Regions from separate parts of the Homo sapiens genome. Here all the other regions are linked to region 2. The links come from fine-mapping of genetic effects on gene expression. A gene starts in region 2. Each other region holds a variant in brackets. All regions are shown on one strand. Distances are between the middles of the regions.

What was found. PIP is the estimated chance that this variant, and not a neighbour inherited with it, causes the effect. A credible set is the group of variants that fine-mapping cannot tell apart.
Region 1: its variant is the best candidate, but not a certain one, in a credible set for the expression of PLEKHO2 in fibroblasts (GENCORD, PIP 0.61).
Region 3: its variant is the best candidate, but not a certain one, in a credible set for the expression of PLEKHO2 in subcutaneous fat (GTEx, PIP 0.70).

Annotation. Positions count from the first base shown.
Region 1 is chr15:64,885,454-64,887,953 of GRCh38, forward strand. No RefSeq gene overlaps it. Among named protein-coding and RNA genes, the nearest start is that of ANKDD1A, 25 kb to the right of the region's middle. The variant C/T (reference allele first, on the strand shown) is at 1,298.
Region 2 is chr15:64,840,764-64,843,603 of GRCh38, forward strand. PLEKHO2 (pleckstrin homology domain containing O2) reads left to right here and starts at 1,152. Exons shown (of 6, transcript NM_025201.5): 1 at 1,152-1,265. The coding sequence starts at 1,254. It also overlaps a transcript of LOC124903508 not described here. RefSeq lists silencers at 675-994, 1,005-1,444 and enhancers at 1,252-1,775, 1,808-2,359.
Region 3 is chr15:64,869,775-64,872,585 of GRCh38, forward strand. No RefSeq gene overlaps it. Among named protein-coding and RNA genes, the nearest start is that of PLEKHO2, 29 kb to the left of the region's middle. The variant C/T (reference allele first, on the strand shown) is at 1,338.

The DNA.
Region 1 (2,500 bases), 45 kb after region 2:
TTGAGCCCAGGAGGTTGAGGCTGCAGTGGGCCATGATTGTGCCACTGCACTCCAGTCTGCTGGGTGACATGAGACCCTGCCTCAAAAACAAAAAAATAACAAAAAAAAGCCGGGCACAGTGGCTCGTGCCTGTAATCCCAGCACTTTGGGAGGCTGAGGCGGGTGGATCACCTGAGGTCGGGAGTTCGAGACCAGCCTGGCCAACATTGTGAAACCCCATTTCTACTAAAAATACAAAAATTAGCCGAGCATTGTGGTGCATGCGCCTGTAGTCCCGGCTACTCGGGAGGCTGAGGCAGGAGAATTGCTTGAACAGGGGAGGTGGAGGTTGCAGTGAGCCAAGATTGCGCCACTGGACTCCAGCCTGGGTGTGACAGAGCAAGGCTCTGTCTCAAAAAAAAAAAAAAAAAAAAAAGATTTTGATTTTTTAAAGACAATTTTCCAGTCACATCAGAAAGTTGAGTGCTGATCTGATTATTTCACTTAATTGCATAAAATTCAACTCTGTGACATCCCTGGACAGTGAGCAACCCACAGCTCCTCAGTTGAAAAGTCTTCCCCCAGAAAAGGCATATACATTGTTTAACTTAAAAGCTGCATGTTGGCCGGGCGTGGTGCCTCACGACTGTAATCCCAGCACTTTGGGAGGGCGAGGCGGGTGGATCGCGAGGTCAGGAGTTTGAGACCAGCCTGGCCAACATGGTGAAACCCCGCCTCTACTAAAAATACAAAAATTAGCTGGGCATGGTGGCAGGTGCCTGTAATCCCAGCTACTGGGGAGGCTGAGACAGGAGAATCGCTTGAACCCTGGAGGTGGAGGTTGCAGTGAGCTGAGATTGTGCCATTGCACTCTAGCCTGGGGGACAAGAGTGAGACTTTGTCTCAAAAAAAAAAAATGCATGTTTTTCTTCATACTTATGTCTAATCATCATAATTAGACAATGTCGTAAGAAGAATAGTTAAAGGACTATTCTGGCCAAGGGCCTTTTGGCCAGAAAAAAGGCTGGCGGTAGAGGGCTGGGGGAGAGGACACAAGACAGCTATCTTGTTCTTATGAAGGGCGGCCCTTACATTCCTGTGTGCAGATCTGGAAGCCCGACAAGGACTCATGGTTTGAAATCAGGACTCCAGGCCAGGCGCGGTGGCTCACGCCTGTAATCCCAGCACTTTGGGAGGCCGAGGCAGGCGGATCACGAGGTCAGGAGATCAAGACCATCCTGGCTAACACAGTGAAACCCCATCTCTACTAAAAAATACAAAAAATTAGCCGGGTGTGGTGGCGGGCACCTGTAGTCCC[C/T]GCTACTGGGGAGGCTGAGGCAGGAGAATGGCATGAACCCAGGAGGCGGAGCTTGCAGTGAGCCGAGATCGCACCACTGCACTCCAGCCTGGGTGACAGAGCAAGACTCCGTCTCAAAAAAAAAAAAAAAAAAAAAAAGAAATCAGGACTCCAGGCGAATGTCCATATAGTTTCTCTTCTCTCTTTCAGCCACTTCTCCCGGGGCCTTGGGTCCCCCTGCTGGCTCCCCTCCCTTCTATGGAGATGTGCTCTGGGAGAAAGGCCATGAGAAAGAAGCTGGTGTTGAGGACAGAGTGGCTGACCCAAAGCGGAGTTGGTTGGGATGCTGGCCAGGGGACTGCCCACAGGTGTGGTTGAGAACCCATCACCATACCTCCTTGAGTTTCAGTCTCCCCAGCTGTAAAATGAGGACAATGATATCTGCTCTTAGTTGGCAGGCACTAAATGAGATGGTAAATGAGAAAATATTTGTGGTACAAGGTCACAAGGATCAAAAACTCCCTCACACTCAGGTATAGGTGACTGATAATCCTTCAAGGATAGCTTTTCGCAGTAGGCTAAGCCATGTAAATAGAAATAACTATTTCTTTTTTTTTTTTTTTTTTGAGATGGCGTCTTGCTCTGTCACCAGGCTAGAGTGCAGTGGCGTGATCTCAGCTCACTGCAACCTCTACCTCCTGGGTTCAAGTGATTCCCCTGCCTCAGCCTCCCCAGTAGCTGGGACTACAGGCACGCACCACCACATCTGGCTTCACCATGTTGGCCAGGATGGTCTCAATCTCCTGACCTCGTGATCCACCCACCTCGCCTCCAAAAGTGCTGGGATTACAGGCATGAGCCACCATGCCTGGCCAGAAAATAACTATTTCTATGTAAATTGGGGATCAAGTCTAGGTCGAAGGACTGACTTTCTTTTCCAATGGTGAACTCCCCTTCACGTGGATGGGAGAAATAGCACAGTTTCAGAATCAAACACTTCTGGGGTTGAATCCTAGCTCCCCCATGTCCTACATCTGGCCTTAAGCAAGATGGTTCACTTCTTTGAGACTCACTTTATCATCTGTTAAGTGGGGATAATAACAGAACACACCCCCCAGTGCTGTTGTGAAGATTAAATAAAATCCTCTGTGAAGAGCACTCAGCCCAGAGGTATGGGAAGACACACCTCAAAAATGTTTATTAGGCCAGGTGTGGTGGTTCACG
Region 2 (2,840 bases):
ATCTCCTTCCCCCTTGGCCTGGGAGCCCCAGGCTGCCCTTTTCCGTACAGGGCTGGAAGTAGCCTGGGAGCCTGAGGGCTGGCAGAAGGCCGTGAAAGGGGAGCTTGGTCGCTGGCACAGCCGCTGCTATGGCAGCCAGAGCCGAAGAAGGTCACCATTGATCTCACATGCACTTAATTTTCCCTTCCTTGGCATGGGACGGGGTTGACCAGGAGAGCTAAGGGGGAGTATGCGTGTGTGTGTGAGAGGGGAGCGGTGCTGCAGGCTGCGATGCAGCCAGTTACTTTCTCTCTCTGGGCCTCAGTTTCTCCAATGTAAAATGAGGGCGCATGGTATAACTAAAATCATTACTCTCTGCTGGTCCCCACACTCCCACTCTCCAGTAAGGCTGTCAGGGCTGCAAGCTCACCGCGGGATCGGGGGGATGGTCGACCCTCAGATACGGGAGGGATTGAGCGATGCCCAAGGAGAGCAGGAGAACACTGCGCTTGGAGACCCCTGAGAGCCAGGGGCGGGCCGCCCCCTAAAGGGACCCCGGAGTCCCGACTCTCAGCTCCAGCTCTTCCTGTGACACCACCCTCCGGACAGAGACCCAAGCTCCAGGCCCGGCCCCGCCCAGAGGTTCCAGGGAGAAGACCAGGCCACCGCCCACTGCCCGGCGTCGGGGAGGAAAGAGGAGGAGCCTCTGTGTGCCCACATCTCTGGCCGCCCAGGGCAGCTCGGCTCGGTCTCGCAACCCCAGCCCACTGGTTCGGGAGACCTCAAAGGCTCCACCGCCAGCGCCCCCAGCGCTCACTGTGTGCGCCCCACCCCAGCCCTGCCTGCGCGCCGCTCCCGCCACCCTCGCCTCAGTCTCTGGGCCGGAAGCCCCCTCTCCTCCCCCGCCGCAGCCCCCTCCTAGTCCCTCTCCCTCCGCCGATGCGGGAAACCTTCTCCGCCCCGTCCCGCCCTCTTCCTCCAGTTGCATCTCCGCCCGGCTCCTCCGTCCAGTCTCCAACCCAGGCCCCGCCCCTCCCCACCCATTTCCCGCCCTGGGCCGGGCCCCCGGCCCCACCGCCCCCTCCCCGGCCCCGCCCCGGCCCCCGGAAGCCTCACCCCGCCCCCGGCCCCGCCCCCCCGAAGTTTCTTGGGCCCCCGGCAGCCGGCGGGACAGAACGCGGAGAGTCGCCGCCTGGCCGGGCGTAGACGCGGTGGCAGAGCCCGCGCGGCGCTGGAAGCGAGTGGCGGAGCGGCGGGACCTCGGCGGACTCGCCATGGAGGAGGAGGTGAGGGCGGGGCCCGGCGGGGCGTTGGGCTGGGGTCCTCGAGCCCCTCACGGGGATTGCGGTCCTGGGCTCAGGCCCTCGTTCCTGCCCGCCCCACTCCCGCCAGTCTCACCTCAGGAAGAGCCTGGGCAAATGGGGCAGGGGCGAGGGGCTGGATCCATATCGGGGACTTCGCAGACCGCGTCCTCCTTCATTCTCGCTGACTTTCTCACCAGTTGTGGGGCGTCGTGGTTGTTACCGTTCCCATTGGATTGACCAGGAGACTGAGACTCCAGCGAGATTGATGACTTGCTGAAAGTGGCCTGGGTGACTGGGCTCGAACCCCGATTACCGTGGTCGGATCCTGACTCTCTCTCTCTCTCTGTGTGTGTGTGTGTGTGTGTGTGTGTGTGTGTCGGATCCTGACTGTGTGTGTGTGTGTATGTGTGTGTTGGGGGGTTCCTGTCTCAAGGATCGGATCCTGACTCTGTGTGTGTGTGTATGTGTGTGTTGGGGGGTTCCTGTCTCAAGGATGTGACCATGCTTTGGTGGCAGGAGGATTGGAGAAGTTGCTTTTTTCTCCCTTGTATAAGTCTCTGTATCTTTTCCCCCACTCTCTCCCCGCTCCACATCCATCTGAGCAGCTAGCTGTAGGGAAGGAATCGGGAGTCCGGCCCACCTAGGGTCTGATCTTAGTCCCTGCCTTCCCCACCCGAGGGCTGGACCAACTGTGTCCCTGGAGCCTCCTTCTAACCACTCAAAACACTCTTGGCCTGGGATTGGGTCTTGCCCCTGCCCCTGCCCTTTACTTGCAAACTCAGTTCTGCCAGCAGCCGCTTTATCCGAGGGTCCAGCACGCAGCAAGCACTTAATATATGCCTGTGGAATGATTAAGTTAAAATGAGGGGCCTGTTGGGTCTAGAGGAAGGTGAATTTGTTTCTTATCCCCTGAGGGGGTCCCAGCTTCAGCCCCTCTCAGCCCAAGGGAAGGGGCATGTCTTTGCCTCCTTGGATGGGGAGGAAAGATGAAGTTCTCTGCCTTGGGGGAACCCTGGCCAGCTGGGAAGCCCTGAGTGGACCGGACTGCCTGTGTCCCTTCAGTGCCCACCTCCCACTTTTCCAGGGCCATGGATAGGAGCAGCTAGTGGTCCGTCAGGGCTCCCTCTAGGCCAGGCCCTGCCTTTCTGTGGGATGGTAGATAAGTCACTTCCCCTCTCAGCCTTCATTTCCTCTTCTACAAAATATAGTGCCTGTCCTCCTCATACTCCTGGCCTGACAGTGGCCGGTTCTCTCAGTGGGTGAAGGTAGGGGGCAAAGTCAGGCCTCTGTGATTTGCTGCGGTTTCTTTCTGGCTGTTAGGTGGGGCTGCCATCTGCCTGCCCCAGGCCCCTGCTGCAAGGGCTGGGCTCTCTGGCCAGGGCCCCTCCCCTGCTCCCAGAGGATGTGGGTCAGGATTACTCCATCTCCTGATCTGCGCTGGCCCCTGATTAAGGGAAGTTCTCCGGACACCTCCTGGGCCCGGCTCAGCTCTGTACACCCTTGGTCCTGAATCTCTCACATTGTCACTTTCTTTTCTTTTTTTTTTTTTTTGAGACG
Region 3 (2,811 bases), 29 kb after region 2:
TTTTTGAAGAATACAGTCCTCCCCTTTCTGATTCCTCTTTTGGGGTTTGTCTGAGGTTTCCACCTGCTTAGTTGTGATAGTTAATTGAGGTTATGGATTCTCAGCTGGAAACTGCACAGGCAATTGGGTCCTTCTCAGGATATTACTCTGGAGATGGACTACCTGCATCTGGCCCTCATGGGTGATGTTCATTTTGATTACTGGGGCCAGGTGTCTGATTTTTCTACTGTTAATGTTTTTGCATTTTTCCTCTTACTAATAATCTGGGAGACAAGATCATCTAAATATGTTGCACCTCACCACAAATTTCCCCAGATTTAGTATCCATTGATGATTCTTGCTGAACAGGTGTTTCCTACAATGGTTCTAAAATGATGATTCCAGCCATTATTTTACCCTCAGAGCCTGGTCCTTGTTAAGGGTGAGCCTGGGTCCTATCTTTGGCTCCTGACCTCCTGACACAAACAAAATGCAGCAGAATTCCAGGGCTTCCCTGAACACTGTTGGGAAGCCCTTAGGCCAGTGGACAGCTCCAAACCAGGCTGCCAAGGTCCAAATCTCACCCAAGGACCTTGGGTGTGTCTCAGTTTCAGGAGACCTCAGTTTCCTCACCCACAAAAGGGGATTACAGCCACACCCTCTCCCCACCCGCCATCCCCCATGTGGGAAAGCACGACTGTGCTCACCAAAGCCCAGCTCCCTTCCTCCTCCTCTGTGAGAACCATGGACAGACCCCGGGGCCAACACAACAGGAAACACCTGAACCGGGGCCTATCAATTGTGGCAATGACCCTCATGTCGCTCCTGAATTCCCCTGCCACTGCCCTGGCGCGTGACAGCTATACCGAGTGAGTGGCCCGCAGAAGCTGAGGGACCTCAGGTGAATCACTCCATCTTCCCAGGCCCCTTCATCATAGAGGAGTCTTTTTGATGGCAGAGTCCCCTCTGTAAGGCCACTTTGAAGAGAGTGGCTGCTGGGATGGTGTTGGCCAGCCATGGGGAAGGATGTGGTAAGAAGCACATTTCTGGCCAGGCGCGGTGGCTCACGCCTGTAATCCCAGCACTTTGGGAGGTCAAGGTGGGCAGAGCACAAGGTCAAGAGATCGAGACCATCCTGGCCAACACGGTGAAACCCCATCTCTACTAAAAATACAAAAATTAGCTGGGCATGGTGGCATGTGCCTGTAGTCCCAGCTACTGGGGAGGCTGAGGTAGGAGAATCGCTTGAAATCAGAAGGCGGAGGTTGCAGTGAGCCGAGATTACGCCACTGCACTCCAGCCTGGCGACAGAGCAAGACTCCATCTCAAGAAAAAAAAAAAGAAGAAGAAGTGCGTTT[C/T]CCTCTGGTCTTGGGGCTGGAGGCCTGTGCAGAGAAGGGTAGCCCTCCTTTTGAACACAGGCTGCCATATCTCTGTGACTTGAAGTCCTGTGGGTTGTTACAGTGCAGGATTTTTTTTTTTTTTTTTTTGAGATGGAGTCTGGCTCTGTCGCCCAGGCTGGAGTGCAGTGGCGCTATCTTGGCTCACTGCAACCTCCGCCTCCTGGGTTCATGCCATTCTCCTGCCTCAGCCTCCCAAGTAGCTGGGACTACAGGCGCGCGCCACCACACCCAGCTAATATATATATATATATATATATAATTTTTTTTTTTAGTAGAGACGGAGTTTCACCATGTTAGCCAGGATGGTCTCGGTTTCCTGTCCTCATGATCCGCCCGCCTCAGCCTCCCAAAGTGCTGGGATTACAGGCGTGAGCCACCGCACCTGGCCTTTTTTTTTGAGACTGAGTCTCTGTCGCCCAGGCTGGAGTGCAGTGGTGTGATCTTGGCTCACTGCAACCTCCGCCTCCTGGGTTCAAGCGATTCTTCCGCCTCAGCCTCCCGAGTAGCTGGGATTACAGTTGCCTGCCATCACACCTGGCTGATTTTTGTATTTTTTGTAGAGACGGGGTTTCACTATGTTGGCCAGGTTGGTCTCGAACTACTGATCTCAGGTGATCCACCCACACTGGCATCCCAAAGTGCTGGGATTATAGGCGTGAGCCATGGAGCCCGGCTAGGATATGTACATATTTTTTAATTAAGACGGAGTCTCGGTCTGTCATCCAGGCTGGAGTGCAGTGGTGTGATCTCAGCTCATGGCAACCTCCGCCTCCTGGGTTCAAGCAATTCTCCTGCCTCAGCCTCCTGAGAGCTGGGACTACAGGCGTGCGCTACCACGCCTGGCTAATTTTTGTATTTTTAGTAGAGATGGAGTTTCACCATGTTGGCCAGGCTGGTCTCGAACTTCTGACCATGAGTGATCTGCCCGCCTTGGCCTACCAAAGTGCTTGGGATTACATGCGTGAGCCACCGTGTCCAGCCCAGTAGAGGGTTTCACAAATCACAAGGTGGCTATCATCAGACAGGACCCAGGACAGGGGGAGGGGCAACCAGATTGCCCCTTCCTCTACCCCTGCCTAGGCCCTGGCGGCATCCTGTCTCGGGAGTCACTGTGTTTTGTTCCCTTCTCCCTGTCTTGTCTTCCTGCCTCCCCACCCCTACCCTCATGTCCCAGACAAAAGGGGTGTCAGAAAAGACAAACTCACTCCACAGAGGTTTCTGTGACCAAGGAGGCTCTGTGATGGAACATGGATGGTGGAGAGGTGATGATGGAAATTCCTCCCTGTTGACATAATTTAACAAAATTCTTAGAGGAAACAGCAGGATGTAAGTAGAGAAAACATGACTTCAGGTTTGGAGGCAGACACACCTGGATTCAAACCCCAGGGGTAGCCAGGTGCAGTGGCTCACACCTATAATCCCAGCACTTTGG